Linked DNA regions of Homo sapiens. The protein of the gene in region 1 purifies or fractionates together with the protein of each later gene. This does not show direct contact. Each region holds a gene or a part of one and is shown in the gene's direction. Other genes may lie near its edges.

What was found.
Region 2: the proteins of EFNB1 (region 1) and EIF2B1 purify together in Homo sapiens (co-immunoprecipitation; 2 studies listed by BioGRID and IntAct, with this or other methods). This does not show direct contact.
Region 3: the proteins of EFNB1 (region 1) and IPO9 purify together in Homo sapiens (affinity purification with mass spectrometry; one large-scale study listed by BioGRID and IntAct). This does not show direct contact.
Region 4: the proteins of EFNB1 (region 1) and IPO8 purify together in Homo sapiens (co-immunoprecipitation; 2 studies listed by BioGRID and IntAct, with this or other methods). This does not show direct contact.
Region 5: the proteins of EFNB1 (region 1) and SACS purify together in Homo sapiens (affinity purification with mass spectrometry; one large-scale study listed by BioGRID and IntAct). This does not show direct contact.
Region 6: the proteins of EFNB1 (region 1) and FIRRM purify together in Homo sapiens (affinity purification with mass spectrometry; one large-scale study listed by BioGRID and IntAct). This does not show direct contact.
Region 7: the proteins of EFNB1 (region 1) and CIP2A purify together in Homo sapiens (co-immunoprecipitation; 2 studies listed by BioGRID and IntAct, with this or other methods). This does not show direct contact.

Annotation. Positions count from the first base shown.
Region 1 is NC_000023.11:68,835,521-68,839,020, forward strand, and holds part of EFNB1 (ephrin-B1 precursor), read left to right. Parts: intron 1-3,096; coding exon 3,097-3,374; intron 3,375-3,500. UniProt on the Homo sapiens protein: Cell surface transmembrane ligand for Eph receptors, a family of receptor tyrosine kinases which are crucial for migration, repulsion and adhesion during neuronal, vascular and epithelial development.
Region 2 is NC_000012.12:123,623,687-123,627,186, reverse strand, and holds part of EIF2B1 (translation initiation factor eIF2B subunit alpha), read left to right. Parts: intron 1-30; coding exon 31-143; intron 144-693; coding exon 694-762; intron 763-2,324; coding exon 2,325-2,400; intron 2,401-3,500.
Region 3 is NC_000001.11:201,827,837-201,831,956, forward strand, and holds the start of IPO9 (importin-9), read left to right. Parts: upstream 1-1,320; 5' UTR 1,321-1,373; coding exon 1,374-1,536; exon of another isoform or gene 1,537-1,723; intron 1,724-4,120. UniProt on the Homo sapiens protein: Nuclear transport receptor that mediates nuclear import of proteins, such as histones, proteasome and actin. Serves as receptor for nuclear localization signals (NLS) in cargo substrates.
Region 4 is NC_000012.12:30,689,370-30,692,869, reverse strand, and holds part of IPO8 (importin-8), read left to right. Parts: intron 1-2,292; coding exon 2,293-2,374; intron 2,375-3,500. UniProt on the Homo sapiens protein: Involved in nuclear protein import, either by acting as autonomous nuclear transport receptor or as an adapter-like protein in association with the importin-beta subunit KPNB1.
Region 5 is NC_000013.11:23,423,703-23,427,202, reverse strand, and holds part of SACS (sacsin), read left to right. Parts: exon of another isoform or gene 1-236; intron 237-3,500. UniProt on the Homo sapiens protein: Co-chaperone which acts as a regulator of the Hsp70 chaperone machinery and may be involved in the processing of other ataxia-linked proteins.
Region 6 is NC_000001.11:169,805,040-169,808,539, forward strand, and holds part of FIRRM (FIGNL1-interacting regulator of recombination and mitosis), read left to right. Parts: intron 1-964; coding exon 965-1,049; intron 1,050-2,751; coding exon 2,752-2,890; intron 2,891-3,500. UniProt on the Homo sapiens protein: Regulates PLK1 kinase activity at kinetochores and promotes faithful chromosome segregation in prometaphase by bridging kinase and phosphatase activities.
Region 7 is NC_000003.12:108,579,439-108,582,938, reverse strand, and holds part of CIP2A (protein CIP2A), read left to right. Parts: intron 1-736; coding exon 737-831; intron 832-1,427; coding exon 1,428-1,524; intron 1,525-3,250; coding exon 3,251-3,373; intron 3,374-3,500.

The DNA of each region.
Region 1 (3,500 bases):
ATACACCCATCCCTTATGGCCCGTTACCACTCTCTTGAGCTTCTGACAGGTCAAGACGAGGTTTGCCCAGTGGTCGGGAAGATGCTAAGGTTACCAGTATGGGGGATCAGGGTCAGGGAAGGCGGGTCTCATCAGGCTCCGCTCCCTTCTGCACTTCAGGGGAAGGTGAGTTTCCCTCTGCCAGCTGCCATGCAAATGAACTAATGAATATTTATGAAGTCTGTTCACTGAGGTTGAAGAGACTCTGAGGGGTTTTGGGGGCAATAGTTCTCTCTTCTCCCCCCTCCTCCATCATGTAGACATCTGTTTCCTCAATGCCTCTGGCTTCAAGGTAGAACCCCAATTAGCTAGAAGCCCTGTTCCAATTCCAGGGCTCTGGAACCTGGGTGGCAATGGGAGACTGCACTTGGGGTAGACAGGACTCCCTGGTGAGTAAGCCAGAACCGAGTGGTTAGAAAGCTGAGCTGGCCTGTCTCCCTTTCCGTGCCCTCTATGTAGCTGCATATATATGTGTTGTTAAGATGCAACAGTACAAGGATTCAGGTAATGTTTTAGGGCCTCTTAGACCCATCGGGTTATTGTCCTGGGTAGGTTTAGACCCCTCTTTTCAATGGGAACATTCATCTGATCATTCATTCCCTCACATGAAGGGCCTGGACTCTAAGGTTCCTGCTGGCTCTAAGATGTGAGCAGTTGTCTAATCCTGCCATCTGGATGGAACCGTTGTGAGCACTGGAAAGGGAAAAAATGCCTGGAGAATTCTAGAGGCTTTGGGGAAACTTGTTGGCTTTGTATGGTGCATGGGACAGGGGTATTCCATCTGAAATGTTTATCCAGGCTTCCATCCCATGCCTACTTCCTTTCTGGGCCCTCTATAGTTAGGTACCAGTGGGGAGGCCATCTCATTCTGGCTTTTACCCTCCTGCACATCAAGATGGCAGCTCCCAATTTGGTGGAGCCTCACTCGACATGGAGGAAAGGCTGCTTTTCTTCGTCCACTTCATCCATGTGGTCAGTTTCCCTCTTCGCCTACTTGGGTATCATTTCCCTCCCTCAGATGAGGACACAGGTTTGGCATTGCAAAGGCATTTGCCCAGAGTTCCCAGTAGGCCGGTATTGCTTGTAGTACCTTTGGTGTAATGGGCCCTCAGGAAATGGAACCACTCTTTTCTCAGATGATTGTGGTAGCCTGTGAACTGGTGCATGACACTGTCAGCTTCATTCTCTTTAAGCACTGCCTGAAGCCTTCCATTGTCCTTCCTGCTCTGAGAGCCTGTCTCCAATGGGATGAAACCCACCCTGCTTGCTGTGACCCTTGAAGCCTTTCAGTCTGGCCCCAGGTGAACTTTTCACCTCTTCTTCTGTTTCTCTCTTCTCACTCCCAGCCAAGCTGGACCAATCACTGGCCTGGGCTTTGTGTTGTAGCCACTGCTGTCTACTGTCTCAGTGTGTTGACTTCTTATTCCTCACCTAAGACCCACTTTCATCCTGCCTTTCCTGTGGATACATCTCTGACCATCCTGGTCAGATGAGCTATCTCTTTCTTCTCCCTGCCTCCAGCCCTTGCTGCTTGAATCATCATCCTCACACATACCTACAGATAGCCTGGTGTTGTCTATCACTCGAGTATGGGTTATTTACTTTTCTGACCCAAACTGGACAGTAAAGTCCTTGACGATGGAGCCATATCTTCTCTTCCTGTTTCCCCTCCAAAATATGAGAGTGAGCTCATAGGTACTTAGTGTTAGTATCTGACCTCCTGCCTCTTGGGAGACTGCTTCTAAGAGGCAGTCAAACATGTTGAACGCCTATTGTGTGCTAGGTGTTCTCCATGTGCTGCCTTGTCTCCCCACCACAATATTGGAAGGTAGGGGCTCTTGCCACCCCCACTTTACAAGAGAAGAAACTGAAGCTCAGAACAGGCAGCTCATCCAAGGTCACAGAGTTAGTAAGGGCCTAGCTTTGGAATCTGATTCTAAAGTCTGTGTTCTTTCTCCTACATGGTTCTGCCTTGCTCTCAGCACCAGCCCATCCAGTCTCAGAAATGGCCAATGGAGCACCATTTTCTTTCTGTGTGCTTAGGCAAGGACAGAGTCCTATGGATAGGTGGTCCTGGGCTGCTGACCCTCCCTGCTGTCCCCCAGTGCCTGGCCTTCTGGATTAGAATATGAACCTGGCTCAAAAGGCATTTGTCCATCTCCTCTCAGGAGCTGGAGTAGGAGCAACATAGAGGTGACAGGTTAGGATACAGATGAGGCCCTATCTTCTATGATCTGTTGTCTCTGGTTGAGCCCCTTCTCTTCTCCTCTGTTCTTTTTAAGAATGAGATGAATCAAGTTTAGGAATTCAGGCTCTTGCATTTTGAGGGTGGGATGAATTGCCAGTAGGACAATAGGCAGTGGGAGTGAGCAGAGCTGCACCTGGCCAGAGACTGTGGCCATCATCCCTTTGCTCCAGGCGATGCCTGTTCCTATCTTTCCATCATGACCAAGATTAGTAAGGATGGGGGAGAAGACATGGGTCCCAGACAGATTGAGCTCCCCCAGCCTTTGGCTGGGAGCTGCGGGGAGTGGTGACTAAGACATGTGTGGGCTTGCTGTGTGTGTGTGTATGTGTGTGTGTGTGTGTGTGTGTGTGTGTGTGTGTGTGTGTGCGCGCGCGCGCGCGCACGTGTGTATGGGTATAGGAGAGGTAGTAGCAGCGGTCATGAAGGAATCTTTGTTGGGGGTGGGGGTATATAAGACTGCCACCTCCAGGTAGCATGGGCCTGACACCTTGGTACCCAGCCCATTGGCCACGTCAGCCCCCTGCGGAAATGCCACATTAGGACAAAGGGCTCCCCCAGCCAGGCAGTGCTCCACCCTGCCGAGCAGTCAGAGCCTGGCAGCCTTGCCCATGGGCCACCCCTTCCACACTCTCCTGGTAGTGTGGTTCTCTCTCCCCACCCCCAGCCTGAGGATGGAGGAAGGGCAGAAGGCTTGCTCTTGCCATCTCCACCCAGTAGGCCCAGCCCGGCTCTTGTCCGCTTCCCTGGTTCTGGAATGGCCTGGGGCCACCCCCAACCCTGAGGCTGACCATCTTCTTCCTTCTGGGCAGGTTCCTGAGTGGGAAGGGCTTGGTGATCTATCCGAAAATTGGAGACAAGCTGGACATCATCTGCCCCCGAGCAGAAGCAGGGCGGCCCTATGAGTACTACAAGCTGTACCTGGTGCGGCCTGAGCAGGCAGCTGCCTGTAGCACAGTTCTCGACCCCAACGTGTTGGTCACCTGCAATAGGCCAGAGCAGGAAATACGCTTTACCATCAAGTTCCAGGAGTTCAGCCCCAACTACATGGGCCTGGAGTTCAAGAAGCACCATGATTACTACATTACCTGTGAGTCCCGCCCATCCCATCCTCTGGCTCTCTCCCTGGGCTTAACTCTTTCCTCTCCTGTAGTAGTGGGAGCTTCTAAGTGGTGCAATGCTATTGCATGTAGTTAAGACCCTGCTGGATCTGATC
Region 2 (3,500 bases), on another chromosome or scaffold:
CCCCTTTGACAAAGCTTTCTCGGTCCACAGACAATATTGACTCACGCCTACTCCAGAGTGGTCCTGAGAGTCCTGGAAGCAGCCGTGGCGGCCAAGAAGCGATTTAGTGTATACGTCACAGAGTCACAGCCTGATTTGTCAGGGCAAGTACCTTTCTGTTCAGTTATGTGCCCAGCCATAATTTTACAGAGCAAACTGCGGATTACAGTCCAACAGGATCAGAACCAGAATGTGCCCCCAGCTTGCCAGCAGTCAGCACTGCCTTTCATTGTACCTTTTCCTGCCTTTGGAAGAAAAATCACTGAATTTGCAGCAGGCCGCAGTATATGATCTAGGGGTTTCACTTAAGTAGTTAACTCCGTGGAAGAGCAGAGATTGTATTGATGAAGATTTTTATCAAGGAATAGGTAACTTATATCTCCCTCTCTCTAGACGATAATCAAAGCAAAACTTCCTCCTTTTTTCCTGAATTTACATCTCTTACCCAGAGTCTAAGAGTATAGTTTTCCAAAAATACTTCTTTCTAAAGAACTCAAATTCTTGTTTCCTTAGTCCAAAGTATTGGGATCTGCCCCTTAACCCATTAGTATTAATGTGAGTTTCAAGCAAACATCCACTGTCCACATTAGGTGACATACATCACTGTGGTACTGTCTTGTACTTTCTCTAACGTTCTCAAAATGTCATCTTCAGTAAGAAAATGGCCAAAGCCCTCTGCCACCTCAACGTCCCTGTCACTGTGGTGCTAGATGCTGCTGTCGGGTGAGTGCCCATCTTCCCCAGCCATAATCACCTCCCCCACCCCATGCTGGCTTACAGCAAGTTTTCAGATTGAAAGTTTGAGTCCCGTTCATAAAGCCACACCAGGTAGCGTCCTACTTCTTAATTAATAGCTGCCCTAAACCAGCAAGCTTGTTATGAGGTTGTGATAGCATACAAAGAAGACAGAGCTGTAGGATGTTGGGGAGAGTGGGAGTTGTGTCTATAGCTTTATGGCTGTAAGTGTTGAGTTTGTTGTTGTTGTTGTTTTTGTTTGTTTGTTTTTTGTTTTTTTGAGATGGAGTCTTGCCCTGTTGCCCAGGCTGGAGTGCAATGGCATGATCTTGGTTCACTGCAATCTCCACCTCCCAGGTTCAAGCGATTCTCCTGCCTCAGCCTCCTAAGTAGCTGGGATTACCGGCGCATGCCACCATGCCACGTTAATTCTTTTATATTTTTAGTAGAGATGGGGTTTCACCATGTTGGCCAGGCTGGTCTCGAACTCCTGAACTCAGGTGATCTGCCCGCCTTGGCCTCCCAAAGTGCTGGGATTACAGGCGTGAGCCACCACGCCCAGCCAGTGCAAATGCATTTTAAGAGCAAAGTACAAAGGTCAGTTGGGATCAGCAGAGGGTAATCAGGGCTCTGTATTTCTGTGAAGACCTGGCTGTCCTCAGTGGCATACTGGGATGCTTTGTCTCACCTAGAAGATGCAGCTTGTGTCGCAAAGCCAAGTCACATGTTCCTGGGATTGTCAGTGTATTTCCCAAGAAAAAACAAGAGTAGTGATCTCTTGGAATGAAAACAAGATAGATGATTAAGGAAATTAGGAATGTGTTCAAAAGTAAGGATTTTGAGGAATTCTACTAATTGCTCATTTTAAAGACTAAATTGGCCTTCATCCTACCAGAAAGATTCTTAAGGTTGGGCACAGTGGCTCATACCTGAGGCAGGTGGATCGCTAGAGTTCAGGAGTTGGAGACCAGCCTGGGCAATATGGCGAAACCCCATCTCTAGGGCATGGTGGCATATGCTGTGGTCCCAGCTACCTGGGAGGCTGAAATGGGAGGATCGCTTGAGCCTAAGAGGTAGAGGTTTGGGCTGAGATCATGCCACTGCACTCTAGCCTGGGCAACAGAGTGAGATCTGGTCTCAAAAAAAAAAAGAAAGATTTTTAAAACTGCATAACACTTTTGTCCAACTTCAGATCTCATCAGATTTTAAAATTTTGTTTGGTTTGTGCTGAAGTAGAAAAGAAAGTAGAGGATACCACACTTGGAAGGAAGACTGCTGTGTCAGGACATTCTTGCTTCACTTACACACATATGTACGTGTGCATGCGCCGGGCGGCAGTGTGAAGTGTATGTCTCATTGTAGGGTCATGACCAGAAAACACCCCTGGTAACAATGCCAGGGGTCTATCGCGTGTTAAGTGCGCTTTAAAAAAAACAGGTAGTTATGGGAGGAACTTACCTTGATAGAAATGGAATATTGATCTTTGCAGATGATGATGCTACTCGTTAGAGCCAAGAAAATAAAGCATGAAAAGCTTTTTTTCCCCTTAGCTACATCATGGAGAAAGCAGATCTTGTCATAGTTGGTGCTGAAGGAGTTGTTGAAAACGGAGGAATTATTAACAAGGTAAGAGCATCAGTTCTCCCCAGTTCCCTGCTCAAGACTTGGAGGTGTCTTGCTGACCTAGGACACCACAGCAGTGTTGATTATGGTTCCTTCTAATCCTGCTTCACTTCAGGACTTCATCATGGTATTGAGTTGTTGCCCATTTCCCGTAAGTCATAGCAATGGGCAGTCCAGTTTCAGTCAAATCTTTTTTAGATTGATCTACATAAATGAAGACAATGTAATTTGGTCAGGTGTGATGCCTTATACCTGTAATCCTAGCAATTTGAGAGGCCAGGGTGGGAGGATCACTTGAGGCCTTGAGTTCAAGACCAGCCTGGGCAACATAGTGAAACCCTGTCTCTACAAAAAATTAGAAAAATTAGCTGGGCGTGGTGGTGCTTGCCTGTAGTTCCAGCTGCCCAGGAAGCTGAGGCAGGAGTATCACGTGAGCCCAGGAATTTGAGGTTGCAGTAAGTTATGATCACACTACTGCATTCCAGCCTGGGCGATGGTGAGACCCTGTCTCAGTAAAAAAAAAAAAAAAAAAAGTGTAATTTATATTTATACAAAATTGGCTTGAATTGGAATTGGGGTTTGTCTGGTTTTTGCTTTATTTATGTGTATATGTATGTTTTATTTATGCATATATATACACACACATAATATATATACACAAATATTTTTAAAATATTATTTATATATTTACATATAAAGTATGTATGTATAAAATACGTGTATTTATATATAAATATTATATATATTTTAAAATAGAGACACATTCACTCTGTTGCCCAGGCTGTAGTGTAGTACAGTGATCATAGCTTACTGCAGTCTTGAACTCCTAGCCTGAAGCAATCTTTCCACTTCCCAAAGTGCTAGGATTACAGGCATGAGCCACTGTGGCCGGCCTGTCATTTGTTTTCATTTTAATTGAGCACATTTGACCTCAATTTATTACAATCTCTCTCTCCATTATTTAATTTAGAAAAGCTTCATGAAAGCTTTTTTTAGTTAAAATATATGTAACATAAGGCCGGGCGTAGTAGCTCACGCCTATAATCCCAGCACTTTGGGAGGCTGAGGCAGGTAGATCATCTGAGGTCAGGAGTTCGAGACCA
Region 3 (4,120 bases), on another chromosome or scaffold:
AACATTCTATCCTTTCTGCCACTACATGCTTGCCACTCTGCCCTGCATTTTTTTTAATTTTTATTTTTTTTTATAGACAGAGTCTGTATATCTTGCCCAGACTGGAATGCAGTAGCTATTCATAGGTGTGATGACAGCACACTACAGCCTGGAACTCCTGGGCTCAAGTGATCCTCCTGCCTTGGCTTACATCTTGCTTTTTCTTCTTTTTCTGAGACAAGATGTCACTCTGTCGCCCAGGCTGGAGTGCAATGGCGCAATCACTGCTCACTGCAGCCTCCTCCTCCTGGGCTCAAGTGATCTTCCCACCTCCACCTCCCGAACAGCCGGGACTACAGGGCGTACGCCACCACGCCTGGGCAATTTTTGTATTTTTTTGTAGAGACGAAGTCTCGCTATGTTGCCCAGGCTGTTCTCGAAATCCTGGGCTCAAGCGATCCTCCTGCCTCGGCCTCCCAAAGTGCTAGGATTAGAGGCGTGAGCCACTGCGCCTCGCCACACCCTGCATTTTTAACACCTCACTGGAGCGCTCATCCTCTCCACCTGCTCCGCTATTCAGGAGCGGCTCTGCACCGTAGGCCATTTCCCACGACCAGCTGCTGACAACCATATCATCAAACTGCTCTTGTTCTCGCACCCCTTAAATGTCCAGCCATAATTTCTCAGGGAAAAAAATTTATACATTTTCAACAAATAGGATTCATTCTCAAATAGTCACATACAACACTCACTCTGGAAGAAACTCCCTTTCACATGCCGGTGTCTCCCCTGCCCAGCCACTTCCCAGCTTTGAGGTTGGGCTCATCTAGGCTGGAAAACCAAGGGACTGGGCCGTGGTTTTCCCACTTCCACTTCCCAGTTTGCTTTAGTTTATTTTCCCCCCTCTTTGGATTCCTGAGGCTAAGATGAAGAGAGTCACTTGAGCCAACTTTTTTTCAGTGTTTGGGGGGAAAAGAATGTGGTTTAAAATAGGGGCTATTTGTGACCCAGACCTCTCTCCTTAAAGCCCTCTACATCTATTCCCATCCCGCCTCCTCTCTCCTAACACCTGAAAGATGCATGAATATAAAGTCATATATCATGAACTTTATTCCAAATGAGATTGCTAACTTACTGTGCAACTTTAGGAAAGCCCCTTAACCTGTCTGGGGCTCAGTTTTCACACAAATCCAGAGATCCTTGCAGAGAAAGGTGCAGTTCTCGTTCAGGCAGCAGGAGGCGCTGTCTCTGGAGGCTTAGATTCATTCCCCGCCCTCCGCCCGCTCCCGCCCGCCTCTGGTGCGCAGGCGCGGCTTCGCGGATTGGCCGCGCGCGGGGGCCGTCATTCGGTGGCGGGTCCCGGCCGCGGGGCTGGCGGGCTGAGGGGAGAAAAGATGGCGGCGGCGGCGGCAGCTGGTGCGGCCTCCGGGCTGCCGGGTCCAGTGGCACAAGGATTAAAGGAAGCGTTAGTGGATACGCTCACCGGGATCCTATCCCCAGTACAGGAGGTGCGGGCGGCTGCTGAAGAACAGATTAAGGTGCTGGAGGTGACGGAGGGTGAGTGAGGCGGGACCGTCACGAGGATGGCTCAGCCGCACAATCCGCTGACCGCAGCTCCGTACCGGCTGGGGACATGGGGAGCCTGAGCCAGTTGGAGATGTGGGCGCCGAGAAGTGGAGCAGGAAGCGAGAGATTGATGTCGCTGGTGGTTGTGAAAGTCCGAGAGAGGAGAGGCGCGCCTGAAGGATAGGGTCGGGGGAGGTGGAGCCTGGGAGTGGGGGAGGGAGGGTGGAGACTTGAAAAGATAGATGGAGCCTAGAATCTGCAGGGGACGGAGATGGAGCTAGACTTGGTGCTGTTGGAGGAAGTAGCGCGGTCGGGGAAATATTTTTTGAGTCCAGGACCAAAGTCTTTCGCTGTTCTCTTCACCAGCTGGATTGTACTGGGATAAGAGTAGGGGGAGCTATTAGTAGGAGTGGTGAAGGGTAGGGCCTCGAAAAGGCGGCTATCAAAGCTTAATAGATGTCATCAAACAAGTTTCTGCCTCTGAGTTATAAACCTAGCTAGTTGTTTGTACTCTTCGTGTTTTCCCAGAAATTAAATGCATATGCGATTGCTTCACTGTCCTGACCATACTTAACGTTTATTTTAAAAATAATTTGCCCTTATTAAATACCTTTGTGCATTTCTGTTTGGAGGAACTGATCATCCTTTGTTTTTGATTCTTTGTCTCCGTCCTCTATTGTGTGCTTTAAAGTGATGGAGAAGAAAATAAACCATTGGTTCGAGATTTTCTATCAATTTCCTGCCGCGTGAGCCTTTCACCGGGTCCAGTGTAGCTACCACAAAGAACAATTTAATCCAGAAACAGGAGGAGAAATCTTCTTGGTCTTTGTGTAAGAAATATATCTGGTCAGAGCTTCACTGGAACTCCAAATCCTCAGAATCTCCCAACTCAGGAATATTTCCACCACCACTTAAATACTTCATCAGAGATATGGGAAATTGTCCCATCACACACCCATCATATTCAAAACCTTCAGTTAGCTCTCCTACTGGACGTATTTCTATTGAAAAGAATTTAGAACAAATCTCTCTTAAATTTAGTTTACATTCTTTCACAGTATGAAAGAGCTGTTGAAAACAAATTTTCTTCTGTTGGAAATATGTTAAGATTTGGGATCTAACAGGCTAAGGACCATTTTGAAGGCCCACTTGTAATTGTCATTGTTTTATAAAATATCAGATCTATACAGGAGAAACCACTGGTTAGGAGAAAGCTGTTTGAGAACCATGTATAAACTAATCTAAAGGAATTTTTAGCGGCTTCTAAATAAAATTCGTTTATGCACATTAATGTCTGTCCCCCTTGAGTATGAGGAAGGAAGAGTGACAAAGCAAAGGAACCTCATCACATTCAAGTTGTCACCTGAATAAAACTTGAGAGTCTGGTGCAAATTCATCTTAACTAAACCTTCCCTGAGTGGTACCCAGTGCTCCTGGTGCTCCAAATGCATGTCTGGCACCTTTGTATGAAAGGTGGACCTTGACTTGTATTTAAACTGTCTTACAACAACTCCACTTTTGCTCTGATCTTTTCAACTTTAGCCAAATGCCATGGTCTCATCTGGGCAAAGTCAATTATAAAGTTCTCGAGGTCTTTTTTGAAACTCTGATTCCTCACTTTATTCATCTTTTTTTTCTTGAGACTGGGTCTCGCTCTATCGTGTAGACTTTGGAGCAGTGATGCCATCATGGCTCACTGCAGCCTCAAACTTTTGGACTCAAGCGATCCTCCCACCTAGGCCTCCCAAAGTGCTGGGATTACAGGCCTCAGCCACCACACCTGGCATCTTTTTGAGCCTTTAAGTGAAAAATTAAATTTCAGAAGTACAGAATTTTGATCTAAGTCACTGATGAGAAATAGATCGACTGCCCCCCGACCCCCATAACTTACTGGTAATGTGCTGTTGGGCAGACTATGAGAATGAAAAGTATGGAAAGGCATCGATGCAGTGACCTGATATTGGTGATCTAGTAATAGAGCATATGACTCAGGTTTTGGATTTGGTTAGAGGGTTGGATCAGTCTCTGGAGTTTAGTGCAATGCTTCGGACCCTTTGGAGGCTGCTTGTGTCTTTTAAGTAGTCTGGCTCCTTAATGTCTATCAAAAAAACTATAGAGATTTACCCCCTTCTGTACCTGTTTTAAGGTGGAGAATGGCGGTCCATTCCCTCAGATGCGGTCTGCTTTCTTCCTCTTGTGGCCTTTAACAAGTTATCTTTGACATTGGGTTCAGAGTACCTCCCACCTTAAACTCTGTCTGAATCTCTCAGATGTTTTCTGAACATGGTGCAATATAGTAGCTGCTTCTTTACCAGCCTCAACCCTTCTTTACATGAAAACATAGAACCCAGCTTTCCAGCCGGGATTTAGCCAACTATCTGGCCTGATGAAACTGGCAGGACATGGTTCCTCCTATTAGAATGCCCTACAGAGCAAGATGAGCCATTCTTGCAAACTACTTTCCACTTCTTTGGTGTTGCTTCACATTTTAGTGTTTTTTGCTTTTGTTGTTGTTGTTGTTGTTGTTGTTGTTGTTTTGAGACAGAGTCTCAGTCTGTCGCCCAGGCTGGAGTGC
Region 4 (3,500 bases), on another chromosome or scaffold:
GTGTTGGGATGTATAGCCATTCTCTGAAGAATGGCATTGAGTAGAGAGTTGGATGTTGTGAAGGAATGGGCCAGGCAAAGAGCAGAGAGAGGAACAACAGTTCAGAAAAGGCCCTCAACTTGGCGTGCTGGAGGACTGAGAGGGAATATCGGTTCAGAAAAGGCCCTCAACTTGGCATGCTGGAGGACTAGAAAGGTTAATGCAGCGGAGCAGTGAGTCAGAGGATGGGAGGAGACATCAGTTTTTTGCTTTATGAGTTCTCATAAATGCAGAATTTAGTTAAGCAAACTGCGTATTTGCAGAAAACTTCACAGATACAAAATATCCTCAGGAAATCATTGAGAAATTAGTCTTATTTATTTTTTAGAAACTCGAAGCCTGAAGAGGCACAAAGAAATTGAGTAACTATTTCTGAGTAAAGTAGTATGAAAATATATCTGACTATATCTCTGAATGTTTTAGCTGGCCAAGTTAATATAGAATGAATCAATGCTGAAAGAAGACAAGGTTTCTGAAATTTTTTAAAATGGCAAACAGTTGCAAAAAGAGGAGTTTCAAAATCTGTACAATGGCAACAGTGTTGACATAAAAGTCTCTGCAATAGGTATATTACTTTCAAATAAGTAGCATTTATTTAAGTGTAAAGGTTATTTTGTATGTGTGGAATAAGATTTTTAAACAAATAACGGAAGTCAGTTTTTTTATGATTAGAATAAACTATATAGATGTTTTAATCTTTGATTCATGACAAGATCTTTCAGTATTTACAAAGATAAACATGAGTTATAATACATATGTAGAAGGTGAAGGCTGGGTGAATCTGTGTTAATTTTGCCTCCTATCAACGGTTGTTAGAACAAATCTGTTTTCTTAAAAACTGCTTTGAAATTCTGATGGTTTCAATTATGGATAAAAAAGAATTTACATGCCACAGATTTGTGATCTGAAGACTACACAGGATGAAAGGAAGAAAATTATAATTCAAAATTTTGTGAAGGATATAGAAAGATTGGGAAAGCACAATGTTCTTGGATGAAAAAGATTAATATTTTTAAAATGCCAGTTGTGTCCAAATTAATTTTTTAATCAAACACTTACCTTCATAGATGTGATTTTAATTTAAAAAAATGAATAATATGCCCAAACCTAGCTGTGTATTGAAAGGGATGCCCCCACAGATCCAGGCTCTGAGGAGAGGGGTGAGCTGAACAGACTCTCTGGGTCATTGTCTGGTTTGGCCTCACTGGAATTTGAGTCTTTTCAAATGAATGTCAGTGGACAAAGGCATATGTGGACTCTGGAATGTGACAGGACTGTAATATAGTCCAGGTACTGTACATCTGGATATAACGTGATCAGAAGGAGTGGATGCTCTGTATTTTTTTGCTTTGAAGGTCCCCATCGCCAAACTCAGGAGCAGATCATAGTAGAGCACACCTGTGGGGTGAAGTGACCCAGGCCACAGGGCAGAGCAGGAGCTTCATCCCCACAGGCTCACTTAGGCATTAAGTGTAAAAGATAGTACAGCAGTAGAGGGCAGCTGGTGATGACAGTGTGCTCAACCCCATCTCGTGAGTCACACTGTTCCAATCTGGACTGGCTTCTCTCCATTGCTCACGCTCAACTTTGTAACATTATCTTCTCTGTTTTGCTCTGTTGGGTCTCCTATTTCCTGTAGCCTTTGTTTTTTTGTTTTCTGTTTGTCAAAAATACCATAAACAAAATTGAAGCACAAATAATCTAGGAAGAAATACTTGCCATGTATAGGTCAAATAAAAGATTGAGATTTTAAATTCATAAATAGCTCTTAGAATTTATTAAGAATAAAGCAAATACTCCATTTACAAAAGGATAAAGGGAGTAAGGAATTTGTAGAAAAAACAGCCAACAAAGAGGAAAACACCCAACCTCCTTAGTAATAGAGAAAATGCAATTTAAAACATTAATAAAATTTTAAAGTTTCAAAGGAATGATGATACCTGTATTAGATAGATGGACACTACCATATGCTGCTGTTGGGAGTGTAAATTGGTATACTACTTCTGGAGACCATTCTGACAATATGTTAAAAAAAATCATAAAAATGTTCACATTCTTTTATTCATCAGTTTCTGCTCAGGAAATTTTTTTGACTTGAAGTATTTTAGTAATCTTCATTTTGCCTTGAAGGGTTTGTCTCAGTTTAAAAGTTTTTCTTTTATTTGGACAGTAATGTATTCAGTAACCGGTGCTAACTTATAAGCTACTCACTTATATTGCCCTATTTTATAAAACATTTCTTTGTAATTTCAGTCCTACAAGATTATCAATTTTGCCCCCAGTTTACTTCGGATTATAGTCTCTGACCATGTGGAATTCCCAGTACGACAGGCAGGTGAGTTGGTTTTTTATCCTTTATAAATTTATTTATAGGTGAGAGTAGAATGAGAGTTTTATTTTAATTTTACATATCTGTAATTTATTGAAAAATTCAGAAGCACTAGCACTCATGAAGTATTTCCAGTGACTTCAAAACTCACTTTCTTTTTCCCCAGAAATTTAGAGGTAGATACTGAGCTCTCAAATATCTTCTAGCTCTTTTTTTTCCTCCTCTCCCTTTTACCCACCAATTCCTTGCCTCTGTAACTTTGCCCTTATTTTTCTCAATTTTAATAGCTGATCTCTCTAACGTTTTATGATTTCTGGTAGCCTAGCCTCTGGGCCCATAGATTAAGACCATGAATTTATATATGTGAATTCGAGCTCTGTTACGTGGCAAATCATGGAGGTAATGTGTTGCACAGATGTTCCTAACCCAGGTGACTGCGGAGCAGGACTATGTTTTAAACATGAAACTTACTTTTAAGTCTGTGGGATCTTACGTTGTTTCATGATGTTGTACATCGTTCTTTTATCTTGTTTTTTTATGGACTGGTCATTAGAGCCCAGAAGGTTAAAAATTAGAGCCTTAGAGTATCATGAATTTTCAAAAGATAATAATCAAAAGCTAAAGGAGGTAAACGACAATAGCTAATTAAAAATAAGTATTTAAAAAGACTTGTTATGTAAGTGACATATACATGTAAGTAATTTGGACAATTTAGAAGAATACAAAGAAGGAAGTAAAACTACCCAACATTCATCACTCAGAAATGGCCATCATTACTCATCATTAACGTTAGGTGAACATTAGCCTTTCCATGTGTTCACGTAGAAGGATAGATGAACAGTTTCAGAGAAATGGGTCATAATCTACATGCTGATGAAAGTATTTAATTTGATTTGAACATAGAATAAAAAGATAAAGAAATATTAAGCTTTGGGAAGATTTATAACACTATATATGATTTCCTGAAAGATCACTTTGTGGTTAAGATAAAAAAGAAAATCCTATGGAAAAACACTGATGTTGGAATTATTTTTTGCTTTTATAAGGTTTACAAGACTTCTGTGTAAATTTTTGAAACCACAATTGGCACTTGTTTCATCTTTGTTTTATAAAATAGGGCTGTTCTGGAATA
Region 5 (3,500 bases), on another chromosome or scaffold:
TAATATTTGCAAAAACCGTCTGCAGTTGACTAAATGCTGTTAGAACACAGCTCAGTTTGGTGTTGCGGTGATACAGTTCATGGATAAGGCAAGCTGGCCCTGTTTAGGGATGAGGAAAGTTGGGCACAGCGAGATTATGCGATTCTCAAGCCATGGTGAGGAGAAGACCGAAGAATGTTCTCTTCCATCAGGTGGTGCTACTCCCCAAATGGTAGGGTAGAAGCAGCGTTCCTCTTCTGAAAAGAAAGAGAAGGAGGAAGAAGGAAATGAGGTTTGAGGGGGTGAAAGGAAAATATCTTAGGCCCCCAAAATCACTAAGGAAAACTCAACCCAGGAACTGCTTAGGGCAAACCTGCCTCCCATTCTATTCAAAGTCACTCCTCTGCTCTCTGAGATAGATGCATATCTGATTTGCCTCCGTTGGAAAGGCTAATCAGAAACTCAGAAGAATGCAACCACTTGTGTATCACCTGTCTGACTCACTTCCAGTCTTCTTGCTTTTGCTTCAAGTTGTCCCCCCTTTCCAGACCAAACCAATGTACTTCTTTTTTTTTTTTTTTTTTGAGACGGAGTCTCACTCTGTCACCCAGGCTGGAGTGCAATGGCATCATCTCAGCTCACTGCAACCTCCACCTCCCGAGTTCAAGCAATTCTTCCATCTCAGCCTCCCGAGTAGCTGGGATTACAGGCACCCACCATCATGCCGGGCTAAATTTTGTATTTTCGTAGAGACGGGGTTTCACCATGTTGGCCAGGCTGGTCTTGAACTCCTGACCTCAGGTGATCTGCCCGCCTTGGCTTCCCAAAGTGCTGGGATTACAGGCGTGGGCCACTGCACCTGGCCTGTACTTCTTACATATACTAACTGATGTCTCATGTCTCCCTGAATGTATAAAACCAAGCTGTGCCCTGACCACCTTGGGCAAATGTCATCAGGACTTCCTGAGGCTGTGTAAGGGGTGCGTCCTCAACCTTGACAAAATAAACTTTATAAATTAACTGAGACCTGTCTCAGATTTTCTGGGCTCACTGAAGTCCTATACTTGTGTCAGGCACTCAGTCGTGGGGAATAAGTAAGAGCTGGGAGCCACCGGGATTTAAACGAAGTATGGGCTGTTGCTGGACTCTTCTGGACACCAGTTTCCTTCTCTGTATAATGAAATTCACAATTCCCTACCAAATCACTAGGCTGTTATGAGACTGAAATAAGATCATCCCTATGAAATCACTTTAACAAATCTAAAATACCATGCCCCTGCAAGGTAATCTTATTGTATTGCATTTTAATTTTACTACCAGTATCATTCCAATTGTATAAAAATTTTGTATATACTAATATTCTCTGCCTTGTCACACAGACCCCCGGCGGCCATGCTCTAGCTCATAGGCACGAGCCCACTCCCGCAGGGAGTCAGGCGGGGTGGAGCTTCGGGGCCCCAAGTCCAGCACCCACCTGAGATCTTCACACCCTGAGCAGAGCAGTCGGGGCAACTTAACTGGGCACCAAGTGGGCAAAAATGGCGCCTTCCCCACCACATGTGCAGAAGGGTGAATTCCTGGATGTTGAGGGGTGGGGGCACAGAAACTCCCTGCCCGCTCTCCCCAGGAAGAGGGCAGGGCCCATGGGGACAAGGATTCCCACCTCTTCCCCACCACCATGGACATAAGGCCTTAGTGGACACCAAGGCCCCAGCACGACATCAGGCCCCAAACGACACTGGACTCTAGGTGGACACTGGACATCAGACACCAGGTTGATGCCAGGCCCTAGTCAAGTGGACTCCAGTCCCTGCATAAACATCAGGTCCCAGTTTGGCACATAGGCCCCAGGTGGACACCAGGCCCCTGGTGGATGCCCAGGTTAATACCAGGCCCCAGGTGGACACAAGGTCCCAGGTACATTCAGGTCCCGGGTGGAAACCAGGCCCCAGATGGACATCGGGCATCTGTATGTCAGGTCCCAGGTGGACACATAGGCCCCAAGTGGATGTCTAGTCCCCAGGTAAATACCAGGGCCAAGGTGAACAGGAGGCCCCAGGTGGACACCCTGACCCCAGAGGACCATCCAGCTCGAGGTGGACGTCAGGCCCCAAGTGGACACCAGTGTCCAGATGGACATCAGGCCCCAGGTAGACACTCGACTTGAGGTGTACACCAAGCACCAGGCTCACGCCCAGGCCCCCGATGGATACAATGAAACAACAGGTTCCATTCAGTGATATAATAAAGCACATCCCAAAGCTCCTTCACCCATATCTTCATGATAATTAACTGAGCTGGATAGTCACATGTTCATATATAGGCCTAATAACCTCAGAAATGTAATTGTTTAGATTCTACAAAACCTGTGTTTGGACTTGTTTAATGGAAACTCAGGTTCCATTCAGTGATTTAAAACAGCACATCACAAAGCTTCTTTGTACATAGCTTGGTTTTCGTTATTAGTACTGGACGTTCATATGTTGATATATAGGCCTGATAGCCCCTGAAATGTCATATCTGAGATTCTACAAAACATGTGTTTGGAACTTGCTTCATGGAAACACAGGTTCCATTCATTTATATAAAACAGCACATCAGAAAGTTTCTCCTCACATAGCTTGTTTTTCATTATTAGGGCTGAAAATCTATGTAGGTACAATAGTCTCTGAAATCTCATTTCCTTTTTTTTTTTTTTGAGACAGAGTTTCCCACTTGTTGCCCAGGCTGGAGGGCAGTGGCGTGATCTCGGCTCGCTGCAACCTCCGCCTCCCGGGTTCAAGTGATTCTCCTGCCTCAGCCTCCCAAGTAGTTGGGATTACAGGCATGCGCCACCATGCCCGGCTAATTTTGTATTTTTAGTAGAGCCGGGGTTTTTCCATGTTAGCCAGGCTGCTCTCGAACTCCCGACCTCAGGTGATCTGCCCGCTTTGGCCTCCCAAAGTTCTGGGATTATAGGCGTGAGCCACCATGCCCGGCCTGAAATCTCCTTTCTTAGATTCTCCAAAACATATGTTTGGAAATTGTATAATGGAGATTCCAGTTGCATTCAGTGATATAATAAAGCACATCAGAAAGCTTCTTCACACATAGCTTGTTTCTAGTTATTAGTAGTGGATATGTGTATATTCATATATAAACCCAATAACCTCTGAAATGTCATTTTTGTAGATTCTACAAAACATGTTTGAAACTTGTTTCATAAAAACACAGGTTCCATTCAGTGATATAAAACAGCACATCACAAAGCTGTTTTTAGTTATTAGGGATGGATACTCGTATATTCATATATAGGATAATATCCTCTGAAATGTCATTGCTTAGGTTCTAAAAAATGAGTGCTTGTAACTTGTTTAACAAAAACACTGGTTCTTCTCATTCATATGAAATAGTACATCCCAAAGCTCAAAGCTTCTTCACACATAGCTTGCTTTTAGTTATTAAGGCTCCGTATTTTTATATATAGGCCTAATAGTTTATATATAGGCCTAATAGCTTCTGAAATCTCATTAATTAGATTC
Region 6 (3,500 bases), on another chromosome or scaffold:
CTCATTAATGGATTATGAACAAGAGTTTGAAAAACAATATAAAGGCAAAGTTTGCATTCAAAACTTTGGTATAAAGAGAGTAAGTTGGTTTTGTGCAGTGTATCAGGCACCTGTTGCTCTGCAACACACCACCTCAAAATCTATTTATTCACTATTTATTTATTCATGATTCTGTGAGTCTGCAGTTTAGGGTGGGATGTCCTGAGACAACTTTCTCTGATCCACCTGGGGCACTAGCTCACCCATGTGACTTCAGTGACTTCATTCACATCTGGCTGTTGGCAGAGGCAGAAGTACTTGAGAAAGCCATGTGCATCATCCAGCAGGTTCACCCTATCTCAGATACCTGATGCCAGTGGTTTCAGGGTTTCTAAGAGTAGCAAAAGTGTGAGCAGGTCGCTGTGTGCTAGCACTTTTCAAGTTTCTGCTTGCCTTAATTTTATTATTGTCCCCCGGGCCACAGCAGGTCATAGCGTTTAGCCCAGAGTCATTGTAGAAAAGTGTGGATTCACAAAGGGCAGTCATTGTGGCCATTTTTATAAATAATCTACCACAGACTGAGTAAAAGCCTTGCATGAATACCATGGATATTAATTTGAATTCTTCCTTTTTAGATTTTCTTTCCTTAGCAATTTGTTTTGTCATTTTGGATTAGAATTATATCTGTAGAATATTTCAGTTATAATAGGGTACAACTTTTATTCCACTGAACATCTTTAGTTTTATTTAGGTCATCTGGTAGGTATAAACTTCAGAAGTTAATATTCAATATTTATAAAAACCATTAACAAGTGTGACACTTAAATAGTTTAAATAATTCTTTTGACACAACTGTTTCCAAGTTGTGTTACGTATTTTAATTCAATCAAATGTTGAAATTGTTCAGTAGATAGTTTTAATTATAGGAGAAACTCACCCCCATGACATTTGGATGTCTTAAAAGTTCTGTTATCTTTCTTTGCAGTTATTCATTCTTTATTGGATATCTGCTCTGTTATTTCCAGTATGGACCATGCATTTCATGCCAATACTTGGAAGTTTATAATTAAGTAAGTTTGTTTGTTATTTTTTACTTTTTAGAAAATGTTTTCCATATTCCCCAATCTTAATTATTCATGATTCTTTAGATTGCATTTAAAACATTTTGTGTGAATTTAATGTTCACTGACACTGCTGTCTGATAATCCAGATATTCTACATGTAGCTCTCAAGCCAAATTGGACTTCTTTACCCTGTGGCCTCTAAAATTAAAAAAAATGTTCTTCCTAGTTAGCTAGTACTTCAGAAATAATGGGCCATGGGCCAGACTAGAACTTAACCACTTTTCTTCTGCTACTGTTGTTTAACCAGCTATCAAGTATCCTATTTCTAGGATTAGATAAATTGATAACTATAATTAAAACTGAATATAATCTTTTCATTAGGTACTTTTAAGTTGTTCACACTTAATTCCATTTGTACAGTAATTTTAACTTTCTGAAACTGAAGCATTTTAAAGGGTCACCAGGGATAGTGCCTGTAGCATTCATCAGATTCTTAGGGGTGAGAGGAGATGTGGTTGAGATGTAAAAATGGTTAAGAATATCTACTTTATACACATACATAAAACATTAAAGGTCAGTGTATTTTCAGGTCTTAGGTACTTTTCTTGTACTACCAGGACATTAAGTTGCCATTCAGTGGTTAAGAGTGTTGCCTGGGAGCTGTATCACATGTGCTTAAATCCATTCTTGAAATCATTTACTCCTTCTGAGCCCTTGGGCTATTTGGTTAATTTCTCTGAACGTTAGTTTGCTCATCTGAAAATGGAAATAATAATAGCAACTTCTTGACAGGGTTATAGTGAGAATTGAGTTCATCACTGTGAAATGCTTAGAAATGTGCATGACACATAGTTAATACTCAAGGAATTAGCCACATCACTATCATCATCACTGATTATCTTCCACTCTTACCCTCTTCCAGTTCATTTTCTGCCCAGCAGAATGATCTTTTAAAAAGTAAATCAGATCATGTTACTCTATTGCTTGAAGTCTATCCCATTTGATTAAGAATAACAACCTAATCCTCTGTGGATGCTGCCTCCTTCACCAGCCTGTCTCATGCTGCTCTCCCTACTCTTAGTTCCTCAAACATACCAAACTCTCCTGTCCCAGAGTCTTTTCGTGGTTTTTCCATCTGCCTAGGATGCTTCTCTCTCCTATTTTGTGTACCTTGCTAACTCCTGCTTACTGTCTTTCAGTTCTCAGCTTAAGAGTTATATCTTCATGATAACATTCTTTGATATCCTTACCCTAAGATTAAGTTAGATTGATATCCTTACCCTAAGAATAAGTTAGATTAGGTCTCTCTATTGTAGCACCTTAGACTCTGTCATTTGACAAATCACAGCCCTAATTAATTATTCTTAAAATTATTTAACATTCTCTCTCATGCTAGACCACAAGTTTCATGCAGGTAAGGCGGAGATTGTGTCCATTTGTTTGACCCCTTTGTCTCCAGGGCCTGGTAGAATGCCTCATACATAGTAAGAATTCAATTAATATTTTACACAGAGAAAAAATTAGCAACTTATTTAAACAAATATAACTGCTTCAGAGGTAAACTGGGCACATCTTAGTTATATTATGTGATATATGATGCTTTTTGATTGTTTTTTTAAATGTTCTACAAGGTAGATATTGTTAGAGGTCCTAAGTTACTTGATGTGTTACTTGTGGTGATTGTATTCTTTTCTTTTTATTCATTTAGGCAGAGCCTTAAGCACCAGTCCATAATAAAAAGCCAGTTGAAACACAAAGATATAATTACTAGCTTGTGTGAAGACATTCTTTTCTCCTTCCATTCTTGTTTACAGTTAGCTGAGCAGATGACACAGTCAGATGCACAGGTAAAATTTGGGCTAATAGCATTTTAAACAGCAACTCTTATTTTCTTTGGCAGTTAGTAAATCTCATTTGAATGTCTGGGTCAGTCTATTTAAGAGGATTTTAATTTATTTCATTTGGGTGTTTTTTTTTGATCTGTGGGATTATTTATATCCCATAATTACTTTTCACCCAGAGCATTGTATTAGATTCCTAACTGCTGTCATTGCCTCTGGGGTCTGCCTGGCTCCCTCTTTGCTTGGTAACTGGTTGGTCACAGCATTCTTCTCAGAATCCTTTCATTCTTTTCTGCATGAGAACAAAAATTCTTTTGTTCATATTTGTATAAGATCTGATATAGCTGCAATCAATCTTGCATTTTTTCTTCACCAACGCATTGCGACCTTTAGGGATACAAGTATGTTTGTGCATGTATATGTATGTATCAGTCTTTTAAATTTGATATAGTCATACATTTGTTTTTATTTTGAAAAGTTAGAGTGTTGAATTGGTATCCCATTTATGAAACATTATATTCTAAAAATTTGTAGTACGATTATTGGGAATTATAACTCATTTTCCTGTAACACTGTTATACATAGTACCTTTTGCTTTCAGACTAGCCCTCAATTT
Region 7 (3,500 bases), on another chromosome or scaffold:
GTCAGATCAAAATTGATAGTTTCTGTCATAAACTGCTGACTTACAGTGTATATATGCTATATAATAAATACTACATGATTAGGCACAGTTCATCTCATTAAAAGCTGGTTGCACACATACAATTTAAATGTTTCTAGAGAAGAGAAGCTTATCCATTTCTATCACCACTATTGAAGAAAAACAAATCTACATTATAACTGCTTTGACTTATAAACACAGATGTCTGTGTTTTGAGACATAAGCTATTTATATTAAAATTGTAACGTGAGTTGGCATCTAGTCTCAATCTGTGGAGGAAACGTTCTACAAAAATTAAAGCTGTAGATAGAGTCTATTTAATATAGATTCAAAGCTCTTCATATTTCATTGACTCTAAAATGTCATCAATTGTAAGAAAGAAAAACATCACAAATTAAATTGACATGCAGTTTTAGAGGTGATAAAATGTGAAGAAGGGTATCTTCTAATTGATGGACTACATGTGTGTTTCAAACTGCATTCAAGTTTAAGATGACTAAGTGAACAAGGTTGATAACCATGCTCTGAGACAGAATACGTAGAAATGTGTGAATTGAGAGAAGAGCCCTAAGGTTCTTACATTACTTTACATGTGTTTTTTAAAAAAATTGTTTTAGGAAATGGAAAAGGACATGCTCAGAATGTGCCTGAGAGTCCATTATTTTAAGCAGGCAATGTTTTTATATCTTTATATTTATAACTATTTTCTTATTCTCAGTGCATTCAACTTCTACAGAAGTTAACATATAATGTCAAAATTTTCTATTCTGGTGCCAATATAGATGAATTAATTACGTTCCTGATAGATCACATGTGAGTATGCAATCAAACATAAAACCAAATAGTTTATTTGTTTATTTTTAAATTACAACCATGTGGTAGATTAATTTTTCTTAGATAACATTTTCTAACATATAAACTGAGTGAGACTCCGATTCTTATTTGTTCTGCCCAGATGATTTTAAGGATCAAAAGTTGTAAAAGTATGTGACCTCATTCATTGGTGAAAAAATGTAAAAAGGAAAAAAAAATTGTAAAGCAACTTTAATTTTCATAAGAAAAATTTATGGACTGAATTGATTTGGCCAGAAAAAAATTACTGAAATTGAAAATTGTGTAGTTATTCTTGTAGGAAAATATACTGATGAAACAGCACATGGTCCACGCTGACAGTTACTTCCATGTTTTCATGATGGAATTGAATAGGGTAATTTGGTTTTAAAATGAGATAAATGATCAATACTATTCAAAGCTTCCCTGGCTTCTTATGTTAATTAGTTTTTTTTTTTGCGTGTAAAAGGGAATTGAAATGTATAAACTTAACTATATCATTTTGACTTAGAATAATGTTAATGCTTTTTTTCTTTTACTATTTTTTCTTTAAACAAAACACCAATGTAAAACAACAGTCAATCTTCTGAAGATGAGTTAAAAATGCCTTGTCTAGGATTATTGGCAAATCTTTGTCGGCACAATCTTTCTGTTCAAACGCACATAAAGACATTGGTAAGAAGTTTATTTCTTTTTAATGTTTCTTGTTTTATGGTAGATTCTCTGCTTAAAGAAAATTGTATTTATCTTTTTCTTTAAAACAAATTTGAACAAGGATTCTGTGTCTTATCGGATGACCCATCAAAATTAAGAGTCAGATTGACATACAAATAACTTGAAGCACTTCAGCCTTCGTGTATGTTGTATTGAAGACTGTGTGTTAAGGGTTAATGCAAACACTTATTTCTAAAAGTTTTCCTCAGCATGGCATCCCATTATTTATTACATTGAGTAGTACAAGAATTACTAAATTATTTTGTGCTCTTAGAAGGGAGGCACATCACTGGCAGTCCCATTTATCTCAGTCTTGTGTTTCCACAAAATCAATGGCAACCCCACCAGAAAGATTCATGAGTTAAGTGCTCAGTATGAACCAACAGTACTTGTGATAAATGAAGACACACAAATGAATTTAACTGAATCACTTTTAGAAGTATATTAAATCAGCTGGGCATGGTGGCTCACACCTGTAATCCCAGCACTTTGGAGGCCAAGGCAGGCAGATCACAAGGTCAGGAGATGGAGACCATCTCGGCCAACATGGTGAACCCTGTCTCTACCAAAATACAAAAAATTAGCCAGGCGTGGTGGCACACGCCTGTAGTCCCAGCTACTTGGGAAGCTGAGGCAGGGGAATTGCTTGAACCCGGGAGGTGGAGGTTGGAGTGAGCTGAGATCGCGCCACTGCCCTCCAGCCTGGCAACAGAGTAAGACTCCATCCTTAAAAAAAAAAACAAAGTATATTAAATCAAGCAAGTCACTGATTCTTTAAGGTGCTTGGTGAACAATTTCCCTGCTGTGCTATTCAGCATTACCCGTTCGATTTTAAATTTAATATCTCACTTGTTCAAGTGCTACATTTTTCTGCCCTGGTCTTACTTTGGAGGTGGAGTAACTGTGTGTGTGTGTGTGTGTGTGTGTGTGTGTGTGTGTTTCAATTTCTGAATTGAAAAAAAAGTTCATATGTTCATATTTAGGAAACACTTAAATATAAGGAAGAATAAACATTTGCTCATAGTTTCATGTGTAGAAACTGCTCTTCACCAAGATTGTGGCTATCTATATGACTGTCAGCAATATACGAAACTACCCATCTTGCTCACACATGCAGTGATCTCTTAAATCTAAATGCTAATCAGCAAATATGGCAAAGTTAATTGCTGCTCCACGGTGTGTAACGTAAAACAAATTCTTAAATTTGCTGAATTTTTTTTGCTTCCACCACAATTATGAGAGTTCCTCATTACAGTTCTTTTGTTAACACAAATGCTAACAAATGCTACAGTTCTTTTGTTAACACAAATCCTGCAGTATTTAAGGTAGCTCTTTTGTTTCCACTCTGCATGTGTCCCTTTATTAGAATTGACACCCTGATTTACCATCATTGAATTATTTATTCTAAGGTGACAAAACTTTGGAAATATTTATCTCCAACTCGTTTGCACGCATTTACCAAATTATTTTTTTCTGTAGGTACTCTCTTTATAACAATTTTTGAATTTAAATTTATCTCTGATCTAAATTTCTCCTGTAGAACATTTATCTTTTAAATGCAACAATCATTTAATAGAGTTGATAATGATGTTTAATAAAAGTTTGCCCACTCTGTGCAAGATATACTTTTTAAACCAAAACATAAAATTTATAATTCTAATTTATTTTTTAACTTTTTTTTCCTCAGAGTAATGTGAAATCTTTTTATCGAACTCTTATCACCTTGTTGGCCCATAGTAGTTTAACTGTGGTTGTGTTTGCACTTTCAATATTATCCAGTTTGACATTAAATGAAGAGGTGGGGGAAAAGGTAAATACAATTTTTCAAATTTATTCTGAAGTTTATAGTCTGATATTTTAAAAGTCATTGAGACTTTTTTATTTTTACCTTTTAGGATGGTGTCAACTTAATTTTTTGTCTAATATGCTTTTTCTAA